7 linked regions of the Homo sapiens genome follow. The protein of the gene in region 5 interacts with the protein of the main gene of each other region in a pairwise test. Each region holds a gene or a part of one and is shown on either strand. Other genes may lie near its edges.

Region 1 (2,635 bases), on a different chromosome or scaffold from region 5:
GAGCCCTGTGTGTGGAGTATATACTCAGAATCAGCACATTTCAATAAATACATGTACACCTTAATAATACATACATTTGTAGCAAAAAAATGGCTAGGTTATTATAGTACAAGCTTAAAGGGAAAAATTATTGAAAATAACACACATTTTAAAGAATAAAACACACAGCCAGGTGCGGTGGCTTACGCCTGTAATCCCAGCACTTTGGGAGGCTGAGGGGGGCGGATCACCTGAGATCAGGAGTTCAAGACCAGCCTGGGCAACATGGTGAAACCCCATCTCTACTAAAAGTACAAAAATTAGTTGTGGTGGCAGGTGTCTGTAATCCCAGCCACTTGGGAGGCCAAGGCAGGAGAATTGCTTGAACCCAGGAGGCAGAAGTTGCAGTGAGCCAAGATCGCGCCACTGCACTCTAGCCTGGGCAACAGAACAAGACTCCATCTATTAAAAAAAAAAAAAAAAAAAAAAAAAAAAGTCGGGCTCGGTGGCTCACTCCTGTAATCCCAGCACTTTGGGAGGCTGAAGTGGGTGGATCACCTGAGGTCAGGAGTTAGAGACCAGCCTGACCAACATGGAGAAACCCCATCTCTACTAAAAATACAAAATTAGCCAGGTGTGGTGGCACATGCCTGTAATCCCAGCTACTCAGGAGGCTGAGGCAGGAGAATCGCTTGAACCTGGGAGGCAGAAGTTGCAGTGAGCCAAGATCACTCCATTGCACTCCAGCCTGGGCACTAAGAGTGAAACTCTGTCTCAAAAAAAAAAAAAGAATAAGACACACAGTACTGACCTATACAGGCACCCACTCTTATGTCTGCTCTTTATTTTGCCCAGCTTCCAGATAAATTATCATCAGATAAAATCTGCTTCAGATTTACCATGCGGCCTTAAAAGCATCGCATGATACTGAATCCTTGTCTCCAATGTCTTTGACTTTAAGAGCATTTTCCCTTTTCTAATAACAGCTTAATTCACATGTATGTCTGTTGGATATTAGTCTTCATGCTGCCATGTTGAATTTCTTCTAAAAGTCTTCTTCTCTAAAAGTCTTAATGAGCAATACTATCGTATAGAGATTACTTGCTAGTAAAAAGACAGATTTGAGAATCAGACAGATGTGGATTTCCTTTTTTGGCTCTGCCACTTATGAATGCTGTTGTCCTGGGCAAGTTCCTTCTCCTCTCTGGTTTCTGTTTTCTCATCTACAAAAATGGAGGGCAAGCTTCAAGGTTACTGGGATCTCAAGTTGTGTTAGTCTGCTCAGGCTGCCATGACAAAGTACCACAGACTGGGTGGCTTAATCAAGAGAAATGTGTCCTCTCACTGTTCTGGAGGCTGGAAGTCTAAGATCAAAATGTTGCCAGGGTTGGCTTCTTTTCTTCTGAGGCTCCTCTCTGTGGCTTATAAACAGCCATCTTCTCCCTATGTCTTCACATGGTCTTCCCTCTGTACTGTCTGGGTCTAAATTTCCTCTTCCTTTAAGGACACCAGTCATATTGGATTAGGGCCCACACTAATGACCTCATTTAACTTAATTACCTCTTTAAAGACCCTGTCTCCAAATACAGTCACCTTCTGGGGTACTGGGGGTTAGGACTTCAACATAAGAATTTTGTGGGGGACAGAATTCAGCCACAGCACAAGTGTATAGTACCTGACCCACGGCAGGCTTAGTAAGCCTACTTATTGTCTACCTCACCCACATTTAAACTGCACAAACTTTTAATGGGACGCTGTGTGTCTCTGTAGACTCCCAGACACACTAAACCTATTTAAACAGACAACTCAGCATTGTGACAGGCGCACTCTGTCCTTCCTTTATTATCAGGGATGAAGCTGTTTCTTCTCTTTGCCCCAGATTCCGGATGTCATAAATCTTTAAAATGAGTCATCCTTGTGTCTCCTCTCTCCCTCCTGCCCCCACAATCTTCCAGCACTGTGCCAGGGTGCTTTCATCTATATGTGGAAATGTGCTCACCTGCTGATTGTAAACTCAGTCATTGCCTTACTCTTCAAAATTACTGGTCCCAGCGGGCTTCTCTTCCAGCCATTTTTTCCTGATTCTCCATCTCTGGCAGCAGCTGCTGTGCCTTGATTCAGAAGCTGCCCTTGTCATATCTGAGCAAGTATCCCCCAGGGCTTCACGTGACTCTCACATAGCCTTGTCCTCCTCCTCCTCTGCTGTCCGCAGCCCTGGGTGGAGGGCCTGCAGTGGGGAGCTTGTCCTGCATCAGCACCTCAGAGGGGCAGTATTCCCTCATCCCAGTGGCATCCCAGCAACAACCTGTCCCCAGGTACCGTGGCCCTTTCAGCTCACTCTTTCAGCTCTTCTCAGGTCCCGCTCTGAATGTCCCCAGAGAAGCAGCCAGAGGAGCTTGTGTCCCTGGGCAACTGAGCAGCCTCCTGAATGCTCCTTTTGCACTTGTTTTTCTCTTCCAGCTGCAGAGCCCTTGCTCCGTGAGCAAAGCCTGGGTGCCCAAGCAGCCACCGCAGCAGCAGAGTACAACCTGCAGAGAAGCTGATCACCGGGCAGAGATAGAGCGAGCATGTGTGTGTGTGTGCGCGTGTGCAGAGGAGGGAGTGGTGTGCCTGTTTGTGTGTGCATGCATCTGTTGACACTCATGATTCTGAATGT
Region 2 (3,500 bases), on a different chromosome or scaffold from region 5:
TTTGTCGAGCACCTTGTGCTAGCTCTTCCCAGTACTGGATGCAACTGTGAACAAAGCAGGCAGAAGCCCCTCTCCTTGTGGAGTTCATATTCTAACAGCGGGGACAAAGCCAGTAAGAAAAACTATCAAATGAACAAATATAATTTTAGGTGCCAGTAGAACAAGGGAGAACAATGAAATAGGGCAAGTGATAGAGAAAGGGCAGGGCCAGTGAGAGTTTAGGGAAGACTTCTGTAAAAGGTGCATTGGAGTTGGTATTTAAATTAAGAAGGGAGCCAGCCATGTGATAGGCCCTGAGATGGAAATGGGCTTGTATGTTGGAGGAACAGTAGTCGCCTGTGTGGCTTGAGTTGAATAAACGATGGTGAGAGGGGTTGAAGTTGCCTGAGAGGTGGAAACTAAATCCCATAGGCCTTGTAAAAGCATAGTAAGGACTTTGGCTTCGGCATCAGTTATCCATTGCTACATAGCAAACCACTTCAAAACGTGGTGGCACTTTGGGAGGCCGAGGCAGGTGGATCACTTGAGGTCAGGAGTTTGAGACCAGCCTGGCCAACATGGTGAAACCCCATCTCTACTAAAAATACAAAAATGGCTGGGTGCAGTGGCTCACGCCTTGTAATCCCAGCACTTTGGGAGGCCGAGGCAGGTGGATCACGAGGTCAGGAATTCGAGACCAGCCTGACCAACGTGCTGAAACCCCGTCTCTACTAAAAATACAAAAATTAGCCAGGTGTGGTGGCATGTGCCTGTAATCCCAGCTACTCAGGAGGCGGAGGTTGCAGTGAGCCGAGATTGCGCCACTGCACTCCAGCCTGGGCGACAGAGCGAGACTCTATCTCAAAATAAAATAAAAAATACAAAAAAAAAAATTATCCAGGCATGGTGGCACATGCCTGTAATCCCAGCTACTTGGGAGGCTGAGGCAGGAGAATCGCTTGAACCTGGGAGGTGGAGGTTGCAGTGAACAGAGATCGCGCCACTGCACTCCAGCCTGGGTGACAGAGCAAGACTCCAACTCAAAAAAAAAAAAAACCAAACCGTAGTGACTTGAAACAACAAACAACAGCCGTTGACATGCTTATGATTCTGTGGACAGGTTCAGGTGGGCCCGCTCGTCTACCTGGTGTGCTATCGGCTGGGTGTACACGTTTGCAGTCAGCTGATGGGTGAGCTGGCCTGGTCCCTGGCGGCCACACTCACCTGTCTGGCAGTTGACTGGGGCTATTGACCAGGGTGCCTTAGTTCTCCTCCACATGGCATCTCCAGTAGGCTAGCCAGGCTTCCTCACCTGGCAGCTGGGTTCCGAGAGGGCAAAAGTGGAAGCTGCAGTACTACCACTGTGTTCTGTTGGACAAGGGAAGTCACAGGCCACTCAGATTCCAGGGACTAGAAAAATACACCATGACCCAGTTCAGTGGCTCACGCTGCAATCCCAGTATTTTAGGAGGCCAAGGTGGGAGGACTGCTTGAGCCTAGGAGTTTGAGACCAGCCTGGACCACATGGCCAGACCCCGTCTCTACTAAAAATAAAAAAAAAATTAGCTGGGCCTGGTGGTACGCGCCTGTGGTCCTAGCCACTTTGGAGGCTGAGGTGAGAGGGTTGCTTGAGCCTGGGACGCTGAGGCTGCAGTAAGCCATAGTGGCGTGACTGCACTCCAGCCTAGGTAACAGGATGAGACCCTGTCTCACACACACAAAAAGAAATAAACTCTACCTCTTGATGGGAAAGTGTCAACATCACATTGAAAAGAGTTGAAAGGGATGGGAGGATTGTTTATAACTATCATTGCAAGCAGCCTACCACACCACATTGGATGGGAAGGTCTTGCAGGGTTTTGAGTGGAAGACTGATTTTTCAGAAGATCGCTCTGGCTGTTTTGAGACTAGAATGTTAGGGCCAAGAGTATAAACAAGGAGACCCATACTAAGTAGATGACTATAATAGTCTAGGGGAGATACTGAAGGAGCTTGAACAGAGGCAGTAGCGGTGGGGGTGAGAGGTGGTCAAATTCAGGATATATTTAGGAGCCCCAGTAGATAGGGTTTGGTAGAACGAGTGTGATGGGGGTGGGGTATAGAGAGAAGACAAGGCTAGCTTTTTGGCTTTCTTAACTGACTAGATAGTTCTATTGACTGAGATAGGGAAAATGAGTGAGCAGGTTTTGGGGGAAGTCAGGTGTTCTCTTTAGCACACGTAAAGTTTGAGATGCCTGTTGGATATCCAGTTGGAAATGCCAGTAGGCAATTGGATTTATAGGAATCAGGATGTAGTTTTGGGAACCAACCATTCATGTTGTATTGAAGGTTGTGGACTGGATGAGTGAGTGTTGCTAAAACAGAACAGATTTCTGAGGACTGCGCCTTGGCATTTTATGGTGTAATAAGAAGAACAAGGGTTTCAGAGTCATATAGACCAGAGTTTTAAATTCTGTCACTATTAGGTATTAGCAAATCACCATTACTTCTTCTTTTTTTATTATTGTTATTATTATTTTTTATCTTTTATTTGAGATGGAGTCTCACTCTTTCGCCCAGGCTGGAGTGCAGTGGCGTGATCTCGGCTCACTGCAACCTCCACCTCCCAGGTTCAAGCGATTCTTGTGCCTCAGCCTCCCCAGTAGCTGGGATTACAGGTGCCCGCCACCACACCCGGCCAATGTTTTTGTATTTTTAGTAGAGACGGGGTTTCACTATGTTGGCCAGACTGGTTTTGAACTCCTGACCTCAAATGATCTGCCCGCCTTTGCCTCTTAAAGTGCTGGGATTACAGGCGTGAGCCACTGTGCCTGGCCACCATTACTTCTTTGAACATCTGTTTTCTTAGCTGTAAAGTGCGTGTTGGAATACATACCTTGGGGGGTTTGTTTTTTTTGTTTTTTTAGAGATGGGGGTTTCACTCTGTTGCCTAGGCTAGAGTGCAGTGTCTTACAGCAGCCCTCCCGCCTCGGCCTCCCAAAGTGCTGGGATTACAGGTGTGAGCCACCACTCCCTGCCTACCATAGGGGCTTATAACTAAGATAATGTTAACTAAGTTAATTAATGTGACAGTTAACTAAGATAATGTTCAAAAGGTGCTGGTGGCCGGGCGTGGTGGCTCATGCCTGTAATCTTAGCACTTGGGGAGGCTTGAAGCCAGGAGTTTGAGACCAGCCTGGGCAACATAGCAAGACCCCATCACTACAGAAAATAAAAAAATTAGCCAAGTATTGTGGTGCATGCCTGTGGTCCCAGCTATTTGGGAGGCTGAGGTGGGAAAAATCACTTGAGCCTATGAGTTCGAGACTGTAGTGAGCCATAATTGTGTCACTCTACTCCAGCCTGGGTGACAGAGTGAGAACCTGTCTTAAAAGAAAAAAAATTTTAAAAAAGGTGCTGGCACCTGGGTCTTCCGTAAAGGGAAACTCCTGCCATCTGAGGAGCATGGGGCTTCTGAACTCAGGGCCTAGAATGGTAGTAGGATTTCTTGGAGATGGATCCTTTAGTTTTGGAGACCTGTG
Region 3 (3,500 bases), about 140 Mb from region 5:
GAACCAGGGAGGTGGAGGTTGCAGTGAGCCAAGATCGTGCCACTGCACTCCAGCCTGGGCGACGGAGGAAGACTCTGTCTCAAAAACAAAAAACAAAAAAACTCCCCAAAAAACAGAATAAAACTTATCTCCATGCTGCTCCAAATCTGTGCTGTCAGAACATGTCAGAATGAGAGGACCTTGGGGGTTACACAGGCCAGCCCCTTCTTTTATGGTTAAGCGTCTGTGTCCCCTAGAAGCTGGCTCTTTTGAAATCTTATAGCAGTTTATGCATTTTCTTATGATGCCTGCTAGTTTCTACCCCATTTCATCTCCATGTGTACACATGTGACTCTAAGCTTTCTGAGGCCAGAATCTCTACTGGGTTTGTCTTTGCATCGTCCACAGTGTCTGAATCAGCGCCCTGCACAAAATGTAAACTCTTCAAATATTGGTTGACTTGCCTGGGCATCTCATCGCACCAAGACTCCTGCCCCTGCCCCTGTCTTTTCATCAGACCATGCTTCTTGTAGACTCCTCATCCAGGGTGCAATATAGTGTAAACCCAGCAGTGTCTTGTTCACAGGGCTCACATGACAGGGCAGCCCTTCCTTGATGGATCTGCTCTCTCCATCCTTGCCTGTGGGGAACAGCTGCTGCTGGTGCTGACCAAGTAGTCACTTGACACTCAGCAAATATGAAGTGTAGCTCTTTATTATTATTTTTTTTTTTAGATGGAGTTTTGCTCTTGTTGCCCAGGCTGGAGTGCAATAGCACAATCTTGGCTCACTGCAACCCTCTGCCTCCTGGGTTCAAACGATTCTCCTGCCTCAGCCTCCCAAGTAACTGGGATTACAGGCGTGTGCCACCACGTCTGGCTAATTTTTGTATTTTTAGTAGAGATGGGGTTTCACCATGTTGGTCAGGCTGGTCTCGAACTCCTGACCTCAGGCGATCCACCCACCTCGGCCTCCTAAAGTGTTGGGATTACAGGCGTGAGCCACCGTGCCTGGCCTGAAGTGTAGCTCTTAATTAGACCATGGACTTTGTACCAAGACCATCAGGTTTGGATCTTGGTTCTGCCTTCAGGAGCTGCATGATCTTCAGCAGGTAACTTAATCTCTCTGTGTCTCAGTTTCCCCATATGCACAATAGTAATACTTTCCTCATGGAGTTGTTGGGAGGATTAAATTAAGTAATACCTAGTAGATACTCAGAAGACCACCTAGCACTTGGTATATGCTAAATTGAAGTAACCATTATTTCGCCTTTTTTTATCTGCTTCTTAGCTCCCACCAGCATTTAAGCTCTTTGAGAGCAGAGATTTTTGTCTCTTTTTGTCTACTCTTATAATATAGTACCTAAACTTTGTAGTACTCTGAAAATATTTGTTGAATTGAATGACTGATTGAGCACCTATGTGCTAGGCACTGTTGCGGATGCTATGGACGTAGCCAAGAACACGGTCTTTAAGAGGCATGCTCTTATGAAGTTTATCTTCTAGTGGGAGAGACAGATAGTAAACAAATAAACGAGTCAACAAAAGAATGTAGGGTGGTGAGGCCGGGCGCGGTGGTTCACGCTTGTAATCCCAGCACTTTGGGAGGCCGAGGCGGGTGGATCACCAGGTCAGGAGATCGAGACCATCCTGGGTAACATGGTGAAACCCCGTCTCTACTAAAAATACAAAAAAAAAAAAAATTAGCCGGGCATGGGGGCGGGCGCCTGTAGTCCCAGCTACTCAGGAGGCTGAGGCAGGAGAATGGCGTGAACCCGGGAGGCGGAGCTTGCAGTGAGCCAAGATCGTGCCACTGCCCTCCAGCCTGGGCGACTAAGCAAGACTCTGTCTCAAAAAAAAAAAGAATGTAGGGTGGTGAAAGAGATACGGGGGAAAATAAAACAGAAGATAGAAAGTGGATGGGACGAGGGTTAGGGTCATAACTTTAGCTCTGAGAAGGTGGCTTTTGGGAGACATGGATGGTGATCTAGGGGGACAGCTTTGTGGACAGAGAGGACTGCAAGAATGATCAACCCAGAGGGGCTGGAGTGTGGTTAGTGATGAATCAGCAGGGGCCAAATTTGTGGCTGTGGTTAGGAGTTTGGATTTTACTTTTGAATTCTGAACAGTGGGAAGTCACTGCATGGGAACTTTTCCTGGGGTCTAGGAGAATATTTGAGTCCACACTAAAAGACAGAACAGGACATTACGAAGAGCGGCTGGAATAGGCTCTCCTTGTCCTGGGAGGTTTTTGAGGCCAGCCAGAGTATTGAGTTTCTTCCCATCAGGTTCCTTATTTCTCTGGCCTGGTCCCCTGAAGATGAGGGAAGCATCAGCTAGGTTGATGACAGTCCTGGTATGTGTGTCTGTGTGTCCTGCATTTTATTGAGCTTCCTTTTTTCCGAGTCCCTAAGTCATCAGCAAACATTTCTTGAGTTGAATGAATGAATGTTGCCAGTGCTTAGCAGCTTGTCGTCTACAGTGGAATGTCTGTGTTCTCTGCTCCTCTCTGTGTGAGTTAAAGCTTCTTATCTTGGCAGTGACTCTTAAGTAGTCTTGGAGTTTTGCAGCCATTCTTCATAAATGCATCAGCGACACACATACATGTATATCACTGTTTCTTTGTTGAGAGTATACCAAGATTGACTGGACAGCTTTCCTACCCCCACCCTATCCCTACTTCTCTGCCAGTCCCTGCCATCACCAGGCCCCTCTATAGAGGGTTGGGCCACACTGGCAACTCTGACCATCTCCTGTTTGATTACTTGATCAGGAACACAGTGGTATCTAGAAAGCATTGGTTGTCTTTCATCTGGGCTGAGCGGAGTTGGGTAACTCAGCAGAGCGCTGAGAGAAATGGCATTTCAAACCCAGGGGCTCCACTCACCAGGAATCCAGAGTGGGACTCTTTAGACTGGGTGCCATTGGCCAGCTTTTCAGATCCCTTTTTGGTCCTCCCATCAGTTGTCCACGATGCCACTTGCTCTGCTAACCTGGAGAGACCAACACAAGTTAGTGGGAATCAAATAGGACGCTTGTGTTGCAGGTCACTTTCAGAGTCCTGGGGCATTTTATTGGCAGAATCTGAAATGCCTGCTAGTCATATGTCATCTGTAGATTTGTAAAAACTAAACGCAGAGTGGGTGCAAGCTTTTTCTCATGTAGCTGGTTTTCTTACTATGAGAATGATACGTGCTCATTTAGAAAATGAGAAAGTGAATGATAGTGGCATTTTACATACACTGTCTCATTTCATCCTCACGGTTTCTGAGATACGTACCATTATTACCATTTTGTATGTTAAGAAGCTGAGGCCTAGAAAAGTTAAGTAAAGTGTTTGAGGTCGAGCTAGTTGGGAACAGAATCAGATTCAAACCAGGCAGTATGACTCCCAGGCAGAGCTCTGAGCACCATGTCATATACTGATTCTCAGCAGAAACCATAGAGAAGAAAGAAAAGCCTCCCTTAAGCCCAATGTAGGTGATACTCTTAGGGTAGTCAGAGTTAACTTGCTGGCTGCTCC
Region 4 (3,500 bases), on a different chromosome or scaffold from region 5:
GAGAGAGAGACTGAGGAGCGCTGGGACACCCGGAGCTGAGAGCCTGCCCCGCGCCCACAGACCGACCGCTCGGGAGCTCGCCCCCGCCTAGCCTCGGCTGAGATGCAGGGCTCTGAGCTCCAGGTCACAATGCACGACACCCGGGGCCGCAGTCCCCCATACCAGCTGGACTCCCAGGGGCGCCTGGTGCTGGCTGAGGCCCAGGTGGGCGACGAGCGAGACTACGTGTGCGTGGTGAGGGCAGGGGCGGCAGGCACTGCTGAGGCCACTGCGCGGCTCAACGTGTTTGGTAAGTGTCCTCGGGCATCCCCCGAAGGGAGGCAGGCAGGGAGGGGCGCAGGGCAGGGGCTCCTGACGTGAACGTCTTTTTCACAGCAAAGCCAGAGGCCACTGAGGTCTCCCCCAACAAAGGGACACTGTCTGTGATGGAGGACTCTGCCCAGGAGGTACCTCTCGGGTGGACCTTGGCCCCAGGGTCCTGGAGGAGGAGGGGACAGGGCCCTGGACTCCTGGGTCTGAGGGAGGAGGGGCTGGGGACCCCTGGGTAATAAAGGAGGAGGGGTAAGGCCAGGCGAGGTGGCTCATGCCTGTAATCCCAGCATTTTGGGAGGCAGAGGCAGGCGGATCACCTGAGGTCAGGAGTTCCAGACCAGCCTGGCCAACATAATGAAACCCCGTCTCTACTAAAGATACAAAAATTAGCTGGGTGTGTTGGTGTGCAACTGTAATCCCAGCTGCTCGGGAGGCTGAGACAGGAGAATCACTCGAACCCAGAAGGCAGAGGCTACAGTGAGCTAAGATCACACCACTGCACTCCAGCCTGGGCCACAGAGCAATACTCCGTCTCAAAAAAAAAAAAAAAAAGAAGAAGAAAAGAAAAAAGAAAGGAAGGGCAGAGGGGGAAGACTCCTGTGTCCTAGGAAGGAGAGAGCTGGGGGACCCAGAATCCTTGGTCCCTGGAGGATGGTGCTGGAGGCCTGGACTCTTTAGTCTGAGTCGGGGACTAGGAATTTGGACTCCTGGGTCCTGGGAGAGTCGGGAGTTAGGAGCCCGGCTCATGAGTCTGAGTGGGGAGAACTCCTGAGAGAGGAGCCCCGACTTCAGAGTCCCAGCTCCAAGCCCAGGGCCATGCCCGTGTCTGCCTCAGATCGCCACCTGCAACAGCCGGAACGGGAACCCGGCCCCCAAGATCACGTGGTATCGCAACGGGCAGCGCCTGGAGGTGCCCGTAGAGATGAACCCAGGTGAGCAGCGCAGGAGCGCGGCGGGACGTGGGCTGGGGTGGGTGGCGGGGCTATGGCCTGGCTGACTGCCACCTCCCCCGATCTCTCCCAGAGGGCTACATGACCAGCCGCACGGTCCGGGAGGCCTCGGGCCTGCTCTCCCTCACCAGCACCCTCTACCTGCGGCTCCGCAAGGATGACCGAGACGCCAGCTTCCACTGCGCCGCCCACTACAGCCTGCCCGAGGGCCGCCACGGCCGCCTGGACAGCCCCACCTTCCACCTCACCCTGCACTGTGAGTCTGTGCTGGCCTTTGACCTCTGACCTCAGGCTCCACACCTCATGAGGCCTGACCCTCCACCCGGGGGCTTCACACTCCCCTCTGACCCTCTGCCTCCCTACTTCATGCTAAAAAAAAATGTGCTAGTGCTGGCCACTGACCTCTGACCTCAATTGGTCGCACAAGCCCCATCCTGACCTCTGACCTCCGACCTCCACTTAGCACCCTGGACCCCATGAAGTTTATGACTAAATGGTGCTTTCCACCTTCTCACACTGAATTGGGTCCCCCCATGACATCTGGCTCCAAGTCTCACACTGACCCATCGCCCATACGGACCTCTGACTCTTGACCTATACTCTTAGTTTATTTCAACCTCTGAACTCTGGCACTCAGAATAATTGTGAACCTGAGGCTTGAAACCTATGACCCGTAACCTTTGACCCGCCATAGCCCTCACCTGGGATGCAGGGCTGACCTCTCGCCTGTCCTCTAGCCTTGACCCTTCCCCTGATCACAATTCCCATCTCCCTGCCCTTCCCTTAGATCCCACGGAGCACGTGCAGTTCTGGGTGGGCAGCCCGTCCACCCCAGCAGGCTGGGTACGCGAGGGTGACACTGTCCAGCTGCTCTGCCGGGGGGACGGCAGCCCCAGCCCGGAGTATACGCTTTTCCGCCTTCAGGTGACCCACCCAAGGGTCCCTCTGGGATCCACCCCCCAGCCCCTGACCTCTGTGACCTGCTAACCTGCATAACTTCTAATGTGGGACCTGGGAGTCCCCATGGCTTAGGCAGCCACCTGATCTGGTGGCCCACGAACTAAAAGGACCTCTGACCCCTGATTTGAGAGAGTCAGGACTTAGCATGCCACCTGACTTGATGGCCCCTGACCCCTGATTCTGGCTTAGCATGACACTAACCTGGTGGCTTCTGACCTAGCATGAGCCCGCTGAACCGGGGTGGCTTCTGAGCCTGGTTCCTCGTCCCCCGTCTCCCAGGATGAGCAGGAGGAAGTGCTGAATGTGAATCTCGAGGGGAACTTGACCCTGGAGGGAGTGACCCGGGGCCAGAGCGGGACCTATGGCTGCAGAGTGGAGGATTACGACGCGGCAGATGACGTGCAGCTCTCCAAGACGCTGGAGCTGCGCGTGGCCTGTGAGAGCCCTGGGTGAACGGGCGGGCAGGAGGGGCCCTGGCATCAGTGCCTCTGCGCCCTCCTCCCTACAGCCCTGAAGTTGCTCTGTCATCCCAAACACTCTGCCTTCAACCCTTTCTCTGCATTTCTTGGGGGTTTTTTTGGTTGTTTTTTTTTTTTTTTTTTTCCCAGAGACAGGACCTGGCTACGTTGCCCAGGCTGGTCTCGAACTCCTCATGCGATCCTCCTGCCTTGCTCTCCCAAAGTGCTGGGATTACAGGAGTGAGCCACCGCATCTTGTCGAGAGCTCTTTCCATAGCACAGACCTGACCCTCCTCTGCTCAGAATCTGCCATGGCTCCCCAGTACCCTTGGGAGAAGCCCAGGTGTCTCACCATGGCCTTCAAGGTCCACCTGGCCAGTTCCACCATTAGCTAGCTGATCCTTCTCCCCAGTCAAGGCTATCTCCTCATCACCCCCCAGGCTCCTCTGGTTCCTACCTTCACTGCCCATCCTTCCTACCGTCTATTTCTCACCAATCCCTTGAATCCCAGGCTTCTAAGAATGATTTTCAGTTCATTCGCATCCAGGCCCTGGGGAAAGGCTGTATTCTCCCTTGGCACTTCTTACATATCCCTTCCTGGGGTAGACCCTGCGCCAGATGCTGGGGACACATCTGTGAACAAGACAGACCACCCCTGTTATTTCAGTAGGGGAGACAGATGGTAAATGCTAACTAAGCCCTTTCGTAACAGTAGTGTATCTACAGGTGATATCACCAGTGAGAGAGAGCAGGAGAGGGGATTATTTTAGGTGGCAGGTGTTGCAGTCTGCTTTCCTGAGAAGCAGATTCTGACTTGGAT
Region 5 (3,500 bases):
TATTCTTTACTTTTTCCTACTTTTCCAGGCTCAGCAGGGAGCTGCTGGATGAGAAAGAGCCTGAAGTCTTGCAGGACTCACTGGATAGATGTTATTCGATTCCTTCAGGTTATCTTGAACTGCCTGACTTAGGCCAGCCCTACAGCAGTGCTGTTTACTCATTGGAGGAACAGTACCTTGGCTTGGCTCTTGACGTGGACAGTGAGTACCTTACTATGAAGGTGATAAGCCTCCACCTGGTCTTCCAGATAGGGGTGATATTCCTGTTCCAAGTGGCCCTTACTGACCCGAGAGATGTCATTGCCGCAGGCAGGACCTGTGGGCGCATATAGGTTGTAATGAAACTGTAGTCTCAGTTGGAAGCCTAGACATGAAATGGGTCAGTGAGCAAGGCTCTATTCCTAGTCTCCAGCCATGCCTGTGGCAACCTGAGCCCGCTCTCAGCACATTGGACCCAGGCAGATGCAAAAAATTCACAGAACTATGATTTGGACTCAAGGGTTTGTAGATTTCCTCCTTCATTCTAATTTCAGTGTCTAAAATTCTTGCATCCATGAACGAGCTGGGCATTTGATGAGACAGGGCTGAATACTGCAGTTTTCCTCCTAGAAATCATCTGGGGCATTTTCTTTGAACTGATGGGAACAATAAGGCATAACTGTTTGCACAAACTTGGGATAAGTGATTTTGGGATAACGATCTACCAGAATGGGGATATTTCACCCTTGGTTCTGAGATGCAAACCAAAGAATATCATGACCAGCTTTCAGGCCTCCTGAAGTATATCTCTCACATTGTCCTGTTCTCATGCTGAGGAGCCTGAGATCCCTGTGTGGGGATTAGACAGTGGACTGTTATGGGTGTAGGTGAATTGGCTTATTTTGTCTGTCCCTGTCTGAATGTATTGCAGGAATTAAAAAGGACCAAGAAGAGGAAGAAGACCAAGACCCACCATGCCCCAGGTAACTGAGCAATTGTGAACAGCTACTTCTGTGTTGACATCTGGAGACTCCTGGTTCAGGGAAAACAGAGCGGGCTGACATTATCGATTACATCTTTTCAAGCAAGCCTGAATTATTCCTACTAACATTGCTGTTGGTTTTCATTGCAGTAGATATTTAGGTTTCCATTTCTTCCTCCCCTTATCATTTACTAACCTACTGTAGGTGGACCAGACTTCAAAAACTGTATTCTCATGGCGACTGCATGGAAACTTGAGCACATTTTATGGAAAATTATTGAGCACAGTCTTTTCATGATCACTGTATGCTGTGTGTCCTGAGGGCACTAACTCAGAGTGTCCTGTTACTCCCTCATCAGTGTGTCACCTGGACAATTCACTGAGCTCGTTCTCTCTCTCTCTCTCTGTGTGTGTGTGTGTGTGTGTGTGCGTGTGTGTGTGTGTGTGTGTGTGTCCATCTGTCTTTCTCTTTCATTCTTTTCCATTTGGCCCTGTTCTGTCCCAACATGAAGGCAATAATTTGTTACCTCATTAATGGATCTATCCTTTTACTTTCTTAACCACTTCCCTATGCTACCCATGAAACCTAGTTGGGGCTCTGTTGTGTGTGATTTCCCCTGGCTTATTCTTTACTTTTTCCTCCTTTTCCAGGCTCAGCAGGGAGCTGGTGGAGGTAGTAGAGCCTGAAGTCTTGCAGGACTCACTGGATAGATGTTATTCAACTCCTTCCAGTTGTCTTGAACAGCCTGACTCCTGCCAGCCCTATGGAAGTTCCTTTTATGCATTGGAGGAAAAACATGTTGGCTTTTCTCTTGACGTGGGAGGTGAGTACCTTTCTATGAAGGTGATAAGCATCCACTGAGTCTTCCATATAAAGATCATATTCCTGCTCCAAGTGGCCATTACTGAGCTGAGAGATGTCGTTGCCGCAGTGAGGACCTATAGGCACATGTAGGTTGAATGAAACTCTAGTTCTACCTGGAAGCCCAGACAAGGGATGGGTCAGTGAGCAAGACTCTCTTCCTAGTCTCAGGCCATACCTGTGGCGCCCTGATCCTATTCTCATGACATTGGACCTGGGCAGATGTGACAAATTCAGAGAACTATGATTTTGACTCAAGGGTTTGTAGATTTCCTTTTTCACTCTAATTTCAGTGTCTAAAGTCCTCACAACCATGAACAATCTGAGTATTTGATGAGACAGGGCTAAATATTGCAGTTTTTCTCCTAGAAATCATTTGAGGGTATTTGCTTTAAATTGATTGGAAAAATATGGCATAACTGTTTGCACAAACTTGGGACAAATGATATTGGGATAACGATCTACTAGAATAGGGACATTTTACCCACAGTTTCTGGGAGAAAAACCGAGGAATTTCTATCATGACCAGCCTTCAGGCCTCCTGAAATATATCTCTCACAGTGTCCTATTCTTATGCTGAGGAGCCTGAGGTCCCTGTGTGAGGATTAGACAGTGGATTGTTATGTGTGTAGGGGAATCAGCTTAATGTGTCTGTCCATGTCTGAATTTATTGCAGAAATTGAAAAGAAGGGGAAGGGGAAGAAAAGAAGGGGAAGAAGATCAAAGAAGGAAAGAAGAAGGGGAAGAAAAGAAGGGGAAGAAGATCAAAACCCACCATGCCCCAGGTGACTTTCAGCAATTGTGGATGCTTAATTCTGTGTTAACACCTGGAGGCAACAGATTCAGGGAAACCAGAGTGTGTTTGATGTCATGTTTTCAACGAAGGCTGAATTACTCCTACTGTCATTGCTGTTGGTTTTCATTGCAGTAGATGTTTAGGTTTCCATTTCTTCCTCCCCTTATCATTTCCTAACGTACCATAGGTTGACCATACTTCAAAAGCTGTACTCTCATGGCCACTGCATCGAATTTTGAGCATATTTTATGGAAAACTATTGAGCTCACTCTTTTCATGATCACAGTTTGCTGTGTGTCATGAGGGCACTAACTCAGAGTGTCCTTTTACTCCCTTACCAGTATGTCACCTGGCCAATTCACTAGGTCACTTTCTCTCTGTCTCTGTCTCTGTCTCTCTCTCTGTCTCTGTCTCTCTCTCTCTCTCTCTCTGTCTTTCTCTTTCATTGTTTTCTACCTGGCCCTGTTCTATCCCAACATAAAGGCAATAATTTGTTACCTCATTAATGGATCTGTCCTTTTTCTTTTCAAACTCTTCCTTAACGTTAGCCATGAAATCTAGCTGGGGCTGTGCGGTTTCTGATTCCCCCTGGCTTATTCTTTACTTTTTCCCACTTTTCCAGGCTCAGCAGGGAGCTGCTGGATGAGAAAGGGCCTGAAGTCTTGCAGGACTCACTGGATAGATGTTATTCAACTCCTTCAGGTTGTCTTGAACTGACTGACTCATGCCAGCCCTACAGAAGTGCCTTTTACATATTGGAGCAACAGTGTGTTGGCTTGGCTGTTGACATGGATGGTGAGTACCTTTCTATGAAGGTGATAAGGATCCACTGAGTCTTCTGGTTAGGGTCATATTCCTACTGCAAGTGGCCCTTACTGAGC
Region 6 (4,220 bases), on a different chromosome or scaffold from region 5:
TAGCTCTCCCAGGGCCCAGGCACAGGGGGTCTTGGGGCCTGGCTGAGGGCAGGCTCGGGGTGGGGTCTGGCACAGGAGACAGGGAATGCAGGGGTGGTGACTCCGGGCCTCCCAGCATAGGTGGGCATCAGGAAAGGATTTCTGCGGAGCACCCTGCCACAGGGCCTCTGCTCCGGCTTTCCGCCTGGACGCCTTCCTGCTGCCCCCAGGCAGCCCTCATTCTTCAGGGTGCTGTCTGTCCCAGAGCGCAGCTCCTGGAGGGTGAAGGTTCCCTGAAGCTTTGGCTGCATTCCCTTTACCCTGGGGTCCACCCAGGGTCCTACCCCAGCAGCTCAACCAGCAGCTTCTGGACAAACAGAATCCTCCCTGGTTGAGGACTGCGTCTCCCCCCTCACCATCTCAGGGGCCTGCTCCTCCCTCCTCAGACTGGGTCCCCGGCTCACCCTCCATTCCTGGAATCCCCTGTGGTCTGGGTGCCCTCACCAGCACAGCCCCTAGGACAGGTCTCCCGGCTCCTTCCCTCCAGAGTCCACAGCCCCCAGCCCCTTTCAGGCGTCTCCCCACAGGCCCTTCCCTGCTCTTCCTGCCCCCTGAGACCGCCTGCTGCGATGGCCCTGGAGCCCTGCCCTCTGCAGGTCCCCGCTCGGTGGCCCGGGGTGGGGTCCCCCGCTTCGCAGACTCCTATCCACAGTTAGGCCCACGGGGGCAAGGACCCAGACTGCTGCCAGCGGCGGGGAGGGGTGACCCGCGTGGACGCGGCTCTCAAAGGACACCAGCGCCACCTGAACAAGACCCGTGGCGCGCACGAGGCAGGAGAGCTGGGCGCTCGGCGTGAGGCCCGGGTGGGGGTCGCGAGCGGACAGCCCCGGGCCGCAGGCGGGTCCCCCGTTGCAGTGAGGACAGCGGTCGGGCGCCGGGGGTCCTGGGCCTCGGGCAGGGCCAAGTCTGCGCGTGCGAAGACCCCACGGACGGAGCCGCCCAAGCACCGCAAACCCCGCTTTCCGGGACCCACTGTGGGAGGCCCGCAGCGCTGCCCCTCGCCGGGGGCGTCCTGCGCGGCCGGGGGCCTCGGACAGCATCCGCGTCTCGCGTGGGAGGCGCCTGTCTGCGCAGCCGCGGGCCGGGACCCCGCAGGTACAACGCCGCGCGTGCGGCGTCCGGAGAAGTCTGGCCCGGCTGCGGTCAAACCGAGCCCACGTGGACCAGTTCCCCACGGCTGGTTCGCGAGCGGCCTCCGCGCACAGGCCCCGCCCCTTAGCAGGCCCCGCCCCGCCCGATCACAGGGCCCGCCCCCAGCCCCGCTCATCGACGGGGCACGGCTGCGACCCTTAGCAGGCCCCGCCCCGCCAGCCCCCAGATCCGCCCACCAGCAGCGCCCCGCCCCGCCCCGCGGCCCGCGCCTGCGCAGTGGGGCAGGCGCAGTCGGAAGCAGTGTACCGGGCCGTGGAGCGGCGGCTCCTGTACCCCCGGCGCGGACCTAAAGGGGCTCGGGCCGCTCGGGCCGGGAATGGCGGCGGCGGCCGAGCCCGGGGCCCGCGCCTGGCTGGGCGGCGGCTCCCCGCGCCCCGGCAGCCCGGCCTGCAGCCCCGTGCTGGGCTCAGGAGGCCGCGCGCGCCCGGGGCCGGGGCCGGGGCCGGGACCCGAGCGGGCGGGCGTCAGAGCCCCGGGCCCCGCTGCCGCGCCGGGACACAGCTTCCGGAAGGTGACGCTCACCAAGCCCACCTTCTGCCACCTCTGCTCCGACTTCATCTGGGGGCTGGCCGGCTTCCTGTGCGACGGTGAGCGCCCGGGCCCGATGCCTACCCGGCTGCAGCCCTGCCTCTGCCCCGTGGGCGGGAGCCTGAGCGGAGGTGGCACCGGCGCTTTCGGGGGAGTGGAGGGCGGGGTCCCAGCCCTGCTCGCGGGACGTGCCTTCGTGGGGCGGCCGGGGCCTGTGCGCCGTGGGGCCGCTCCAGGCTGCGGGCTTCCTCACCTGGGAGGTGCGGACAGCATCTCCATAGTGCCGCGCGATGGCTGCGACCCAGGGGCTGTGCCTGATGCGAGCGGGACCTCAGCTGGGGTCCCCATGGCCGGCTTCCTCTCCCAGTGGCTGGGGCAGCAGGTGTGGCTAAGCAGGGCTGGCCTGGGCCCCTGGCCCTAGCCCTTCTCATGCTGTGGCCCAGAGTCCCAGCCTCCTGGAGAGCCAGGCCGGGCCCTGCCGTCCCGGTGCGCGTGTCCCAGCCCTGCTCCACCCAGCTGCCCAGCTCTTGCTGGGGTGAGGACAGCCCTTCCCTGTTCTGGGCCCGGGTGCTCCCAGGGCTGGCTCTCATCTTCCCCCGCGGCAAGCAGGCGGGCCCCGGGGACTACAGCCCAGCCTCTGGAGGGAGCGAGGGACAGGGGGACCACAGCCCAGCCTCTGGAGGGAGCGAGGGACAGGGGGACCACAGCCCAGCCTCTGGAGGGAGCGAGGGACAGGACCGGAGTTCTGGACGTTTGACACTTACTGTGTCCTGGCCAGGGACGCTGAGGTGGGAGGGGCTATCCTTAGCCTCAGGCCTTTCTCTGGGGATAGGGGTCCACTCAGGTCAGGGTCCGCAGAGGAGACTGTCCCCTCACACGGGGATGTCGTCTGTGGTGGAAACGGCATGGTTGTTCTGACCCCCAGGGCTGCACAAGGTGGCCTGGCCCGCCAGCTTCTTTGTCACGTCAGAGCATGGCACAGCCATGCCTGCTGCCTGGGGATGCCAGGGGCTTCCCCAGAGGTGGGGAGTGTGCATGTGTGGCTGAGGCAGCTCCCGACTTGAGGCCAGACTCCGGGTCCCCTCCCCCTTCGGAGGGGGCAAAAGGGCCCTCCTGGGCAGCACCCGTGGAAGAGGGGCCAGCAGCGGTATGGGAAGGAGGGCACCCTCCCCGCCAGGAGACCCAAGCGTGGGGCGTGGGGTGAGCAGGCCCTGTCTCCATGGCAGAGGAGGGACCTGGGTGCTGCCTGTCCCCCCTTCTCTCGGTGGACCCTGGCCTGCTTCCAGAGCTTTTCTCTTAAGCTGCCAGGAGAAGCTTCTCCCGGTCCCATCTGGAGACTGGGGTGGCTAGGGCTGCAGCAGGTGAAGGGCGGCACCAGCGGGGCCTTCTGGAAGAGCTCCCTGTCCCAGCTGGACTGCCTGGGGCTCCGTGGCACAACCTTCACCCGGGGCTGTCTTGGCAGTTGTGTCACTGGGTGCCCTGCCCACTCCCAGCCCCCGCAGCCTTTGCCCCAGCCCAGGGTTCCTGCCCTCCCTTCTGCCCCGGCCCCACCCTCCTGTCTGTTTTACTGCTGGGGTGTGGCGCTTGCTCCTCTTATGCCCTCCTGAGCACCCCGCCGGCTCAGGTGCTCCCTGGGTCCTATGCACACAGCCAGAGCTCCTTGGGAGGCTTGGGGCTGTCCACTCCCCAGCGGCTCCTGCCTCCCAGAGCCCTCACCTGCCTTGGGTGGCTCTCGGTCTCAGGCACGGTGCACAGCACGTAGCAGGGACAATTAGGGGTATGCGTAGTTTCGGGGGAGTGAGACACAGATGTCCTTGGTAAAGCCAATCTGCCGAAGGCCGAGAAGCCCCTGCCACCTGGCGAACCTGGTGAGCCCAGGGCTGCCCCTTGAGAGGCCCAACTGCAGAGGCAGGAGGAGTGCTGGGCCTACGTGCGAAGGGGAGGGACTGCTCTCTGGATGAGAGGATACACTCATTGTCCTCCAGGATGGTCAGGACCACCCAGGTTCTTGCTCCTGGGCTCCTGGGCTGCAGGCTCTCTCCAATGAGTGGGCAGGGTGGTGGGGGAACTCGAGGACCACAGGGCCCCTGGTGCAGCATGGTGGGTATGGCAGTCATTGCCCTGGGGCCTCTAACTTCCTGGGTAGGACAGCCATTGGGTAGGACAGGGGCCAACTCACACAGTGCTCATTCCCACAGTCTGCAATTTCATGTCTCATGAGAAGTGCCTGAAGCACGTGAGGATCCCGTGCACGAGTGTGGCACCCAGCCTGGTCCGGGTGAGTGTGGGGCTGGGTGTTGCACCTGCAAGAGGCTGGGGGATGTGTCAGCTCTCGTAGGGTCGAGGCACTGAAAACCTTCATGTCAGACGTTAGTGATACCTGCAGTTGAAAGGCAAAGGGCAGATACTGCTCGGGATTAAAAGGCTGAGCACCCTGCATGGATCTGCAGGGAATGATGGTGATAAAAGCCAGTCCCCGAGGTCGCAAATAGCAAGATCCT
Region 7 (3,500 bases), on a different chromosome or scaffold from region 5:
CCTCCACAATCTACTCTCATCTTGGCAGGAAGAAAAGGCTTCAGGCTCCTCCGCTGTCCCCAGTTAGATCCATGTGTAATCTTATTCCTCATTCTTTCTCCAGCTTCCCCTAAAGTACGACTGAGCTTGGCAAACGAAGCTCTGCTGCCCACCCTCATCTGCGACATTGCTGGCTATTACCCTCTGGATGTGGTGGTGACGTGGACCCGAGAGGAGCTGGGTGGATCCCCAGCCCAAGTCTCTGGTGCCTCCTTCTCCAGCCTCAGGCAAAGCGTGGCAGGCACCTACAGCATCTCCTCCTCTCTCACCGCAGAACCTGGCTCTGCAGGTGCCACTTACACCTGCCAGGTCACACACATCTCTCTGGAGGAGCCCCTTGGGGCCAGCACCCAGGTTGTCCCACCAGGTACTGGGAGTGTCCTCCTTTTCCCCACCTCCACACTAGGGCTCATGGCTCTCCTGCCCCAGCTCATCTATGGCCTTGTTCTGCTGCCCATCCACTTTGTTCGCAGCCCTGGCTTCATGCTCCTGCCTCTGCTCCTGACTATTTTCCCAAGGCGGCAGCTGCCACAGCTTCTACCACACATCCCCTGAGACTTCATTATACTCCAGCCTCCAGGGTGTCAGGCAATGTGCTTAAGGCTGGAGATCACAGATGAATAATTCCTGATCATGCCCTCCAGGAGCTTAGTCCAGTAATAGAGACAAGACTAAGTAGACAGAGAAGATGGCATTTGAGCCAAGTTAACTAGCTTAGAGGGAAGGGAACACTCAAGATAGAAACAATAGCATATATGAAAGCCAAATCATAAAACAGCCTAAAGAGAATTTGGAGAATTGCAAGTAATTCAGCACAGCTAGAGCTTAGGGTATATGGGAAAAAGGGAAAGTGGCTCTGAAGCTTCGGAGGTAATTCTATTTATTGAGCATTTACATGAATCAAGCAGTGTAGAAAGCACTTAAATGTATGATTTCATGGATCATGACTCCCATTTTACAGGTGAGTAAACTGGCACTTGCAGATGTCAATGAATTTGCCCAAGGTCACCTATCAATCAATGGTAAAGAGAGAATGTGAAAAACAGGCAACCGGATTCCCCTTACGGGCTTAATTAAACCCTGTAGATCTCACTGGGCCTTCAAGCTGGAACTTCCTGAGAGCCATAGCATGCTGTTGAAAGGTTTTATTTATTTATTTATTTATTTATTTATTTATTTATTTATTTTATTTTATTTTACTTTTTTTCGATACAGAATCTTGCTCTGTTCCCCAGGCTGGAGTGCAGTGGTATGATCTCAGCTCACTGCAACCTCCATATCCTGGGTTCAAGCCATCCTCTTGCCTCAGCCTCCCAAGTAGCTGGGATTACAGGCGCGCACCACCACGCCTGGCTAATTTTGCGTTTTTAGTAGAGATGGGGTTTCGCCATGATGGCCAGGCTGGTCTCAAACTCCTGACCTCAGGTGATCTGTCCGCCTCGGCTTCCCAAAGTGCTGGGATTACAGATATGAGCCACCGCACCCTGCCTGTCGAGAGGTTTTAAGCAGGAAAGGGACAGGAAAGAACCCGCAACTTGAAGTGGAAACATCCAGGAGCACTGGGCATTATTTGGTTGCTCATTAGACTGTGAACTTCCCCAAAACTGAGGTTTCACTTCAGCTCACATCATTCCCCAACTATTTACAAAATCCCAGTTAACTGGTGGTTTTTTGTTTTGCTTTGTTTTATTTTGTTTTGTTTTGAGATAGGGTCTCACTCTGTCGCCCAGGCTGGAGTGCAGTGGCACGATCTCAGCTCACTGCAAACTCTGCCTCCCAGGCTCAAGTGATTCTCCCACCTCAGCCTCCCAAGTACCTGGGACCACAGGCGCACACCAACATGCCCAGTTAATTTTTTGTATTTTTTGTACAGACAGGGTTTCACCATGTTGCCCAGGCTGGTCTCGAACTCCTGACCTCAGGTGATCCACCTACCTCAGCCTCCCAAAGTTCTGGGATTACAGGCATGAGCCACTGTGTCCAGGCAAGTTAAGTGCTAACAAATAAACCCACCTAAATCTCACTTGCAAAGCAATTTTTAAAACCTTGTCCTTAGGTGGGAAGAGGTAGAGAATTCTGTGTGGAGTAACTCACAAGTATCCAGCAACCTTGAATAAGAACAAATGCTGCTGAGTGCCTTGTTCCAGGCTCCTCAACCAGGGACTCACACACACAATCCTTAGCTCCTCCTCCCTGGGGTGGACACTGCAGGTGAGGGCTCAGCTCATGATTCCTGCGCACGATGATCCCCGCCCACGTTGCTCTCACCTACAGAGCGGAGAACAGCCTTGGGAGTCATCTTTGCCAGCAGTCTCTTCCTTCTTGCACTGATGTTCCTGGGGCTTCAGAGACGGCAAGGTAAGAGCCTGGGTGCCCTTGGCTCTGGCCCTGGCCCACCTCACCCACTCTAACCACCCCCCCGCCCAGACCAGGGTGGAAGCCCAGATGCCCCAAGCTCCAGCCACCCACCCATCACAGCCTCCTGCTTTTGAGTTTGCCCTAAATGAAAATGAAACCAGTCGTGTTCCCTCGTTTTCTCCTAGCTACCTCACTAAAGTCTGTCACTCTCCTGCCTCAGAGTAGAAAGAAAGAGTAGTCACGTGCTCCCAGAAGGACTCTAAGTCAAGTCACAGAGCTAAAAATACATGAAGGTGGCACCAGCTCATGGGGCACTGGGCCTGGCTCTGCAGAGGCCTCTGCCTTCCTTCACTGTGCACCCTGGGCTCATGCACCAAGGCAGAGAACAGGAAGAAGTGAGGGGACAAGAAGAAGGCAGAATGTCCAGATGGAGGATAAGACCAAAGAGCCAGGTTGGTGGTGTGACGGTAGGAAAACAAAGCTGGAGGAAATGGAGAAGGAACAAGTGAGGGACAATGAGGCATGGGTTGGGGCTGGGCTACCCCTCCCAAACTCAGCTCTGTCAAAATAAAAGGCCCTTGTGTCTGCTGCGACCAAGCTTTTCCACTTTCCTGTCTTTCTCCACACTGGTCCCAACTGAGCCCTGTCACCAAGCCTAGCGGCTCCAACTTGCAAAGTGTTTAAGTATGAAACAAAGGCCCTCAGAGGCACCCCCGTGGCTCCATCTCAGTTGCACCTCAGCTGCAATTAGGGTTCTGCTCCCTCGGGTGACTGCTGGGAGGTTCAGGATACCTGCAAATGCCTCACTCCCTCAGCTGCAAGGAGAGACTTCTCCTTTTTATTCGTTTCTAAAATGTGCCTAATCAATACGGTGGAACTCAGCATACCAAAACTGTACGTGAGGATGATGGGGAAAAGGGGGTAAGGGGGTGTTCACTGACAGCCTTATCTGGGCACATCCCCTGGGACAGGACAAGCAGGCCAAGGACCTAGGAAGGAGCACAGGAGGCAGATGGAAGAGGCCTGAGGGAACCTGTGCTTGTTTGCCAGTGTGAGATGCCCACGCAACTTCCTGTCTTCACTTCCTCTTACCAGCACCTACA

What was found.
Region 1: the proteins of NBPF19 (region 5) and CRY2 interact in a two-hybrid assay, tested with the Homo sapiens proteins (one large-scale study listed by BioGRID).
Region 2: the proteins of NBPF19 (region 5) and PTK7 interact in a two-hybrid assay, tested with the Homo sapiens proteins (one large-scale study listed by BioGRID).
Region 3: the proteins of NBPF19 (region 5) and CTNNBIP1 interact in a two-hybrid assay, tested with the Homo sapiens proteins (one large-scale study listed by BioGRID).
Region 4: the proteins of NBPF19 (region 5) and BCAM interact in a two-hybrid assay, tested with the Homo sapiens proteins (one large-scale study listed by BioGRID).
Region 6: the proteins of NBPF19 (region 5) and DGKQ interact in a two-hybrid assay, tested with the Homo sapiens proteins (one large-scale study listed by BioGRID).
Region 7: the proteins of NBPF19 (region 5) and TAPBPL interact in a two-hybrid assay, tested with the Homo sapiens proteins (one large-scale study listed by BioGRID).

What each region holds. Positions count from the first base shown.
Region 1 is NC_000011.10:45,878,475-45,881,109, forward strand, and holds part of CRY2 (cryptochrome-2), read left to right. Parts: intron 1-2,439; 3' UTR 2,440-2,635. UniProt on the Homo sapiens protein: Transcriptional repressor which forms a core component of the circadian clock.
Region 2 is NC_000006.12:43,135,314-43,138,813, forward strand, and holds part of PTK7 (inactive tyrosine-protein kinase 7 isoform a precursor), read left to right. Parts: intron 1-3,500. UniProt on the Homo sapiens protein: Inactive tyrosine kinase involved in Wnt signaling pathway. Component of both the non-canonical (also known as the Wnt/planar cell polarity signaling) and the canonical Wnt signaling pathway.
Region 3 is NC_000001.11:9,903,770-9,907,269, reverse strand, and holds part of CTNNBIP1 (beta-catenin-interacting protein 1), read left to right. Parts: intron 1-3,500. UniProt on the Homo sapiens protein: Prevents the interaction between CTNNB1 and TCF family members, and acts as a negative regulator of the Wnt signaling pathway.
Region 4 is NC_000019.10:44,812,103-44,815,602, forward strand, and holds part of BCAM (basal cell adhesion molecule isoform 1 precursor), read left to right. Parts: intron 1-60; coding exon 61-289; intron 290-375; coding exon 376-446; intron 447-1,147; coding exon 1,148-1,244; intron 1,245-1,335; coding exon 1,336-1,518; intron 1,519-2,049; coding exon 2,050-2,186; intron 2,187-2,501; coding exon 2,502-2,658; intron 2,659-3,500. UniProt on the Homo sapiens protein: Transmembrane glycoprotein that functions as both a receptor and an adhesion molecule playing a crucial role in cell adhesion, motility, migration and invasion.
Region 5 is NC_000001.11:149,499,045-149,502,544, forward strand, and holds part of NBPF19 (NBPF family member NBPF19), read left to right. Parts: intron 1-28; coding exon 29-201; intron 202-910; coding exon 911-962; intron 963-1,612; coding exon 1,613-1,785; intron 1,786-2,499; coding exon 2,500-2,608; intron 2,609-3,241; coding exon 3,242-3,414; intron 3,415-3,500.
Region 6 is NC_000004.12:970,770-974,989, reverse strand, and holds the start of DGKQ (diacylglycerol kinase theta), read left to right. Parts: upstream 1-1,420; 5' UTR 1,421-1,507; coding exon 1,508-1,778; intron 1,779-3,917; coding exon 3,918-3,997; intron 3,998-4,220. UniProt on the Homo sapiens protein: Diacylglycerol kinase that converts diacylglycerol/DAG into phosphatidic acid/phosphatidate/PA and regulates the respective levels of these two bioactive lipids.
Region 7 is NC_000012.12:6,458,542-6,462,041, forward strand, and holds part of TAPBPL (tapasin-related protein isoform 1 precursor), read left to right. Parts: intron 1-103; coding exon 104-406; intron 407-2,313; coding exon 2,314-2,397; intron 2,398-2,582; exon of another isoform or gene 2,583-2,849; intron 2,850-3,492; coding exon 3,493-3,500. UniProt on the Homo sapiens protein: Component of the antigen processing and presentation pathway, which binds to MHC class I coupled with beta2-microglobulin/B2M. Association between TAPBPR and MHC class I occurs in the absence of a functional peptide-loading complex (PLC).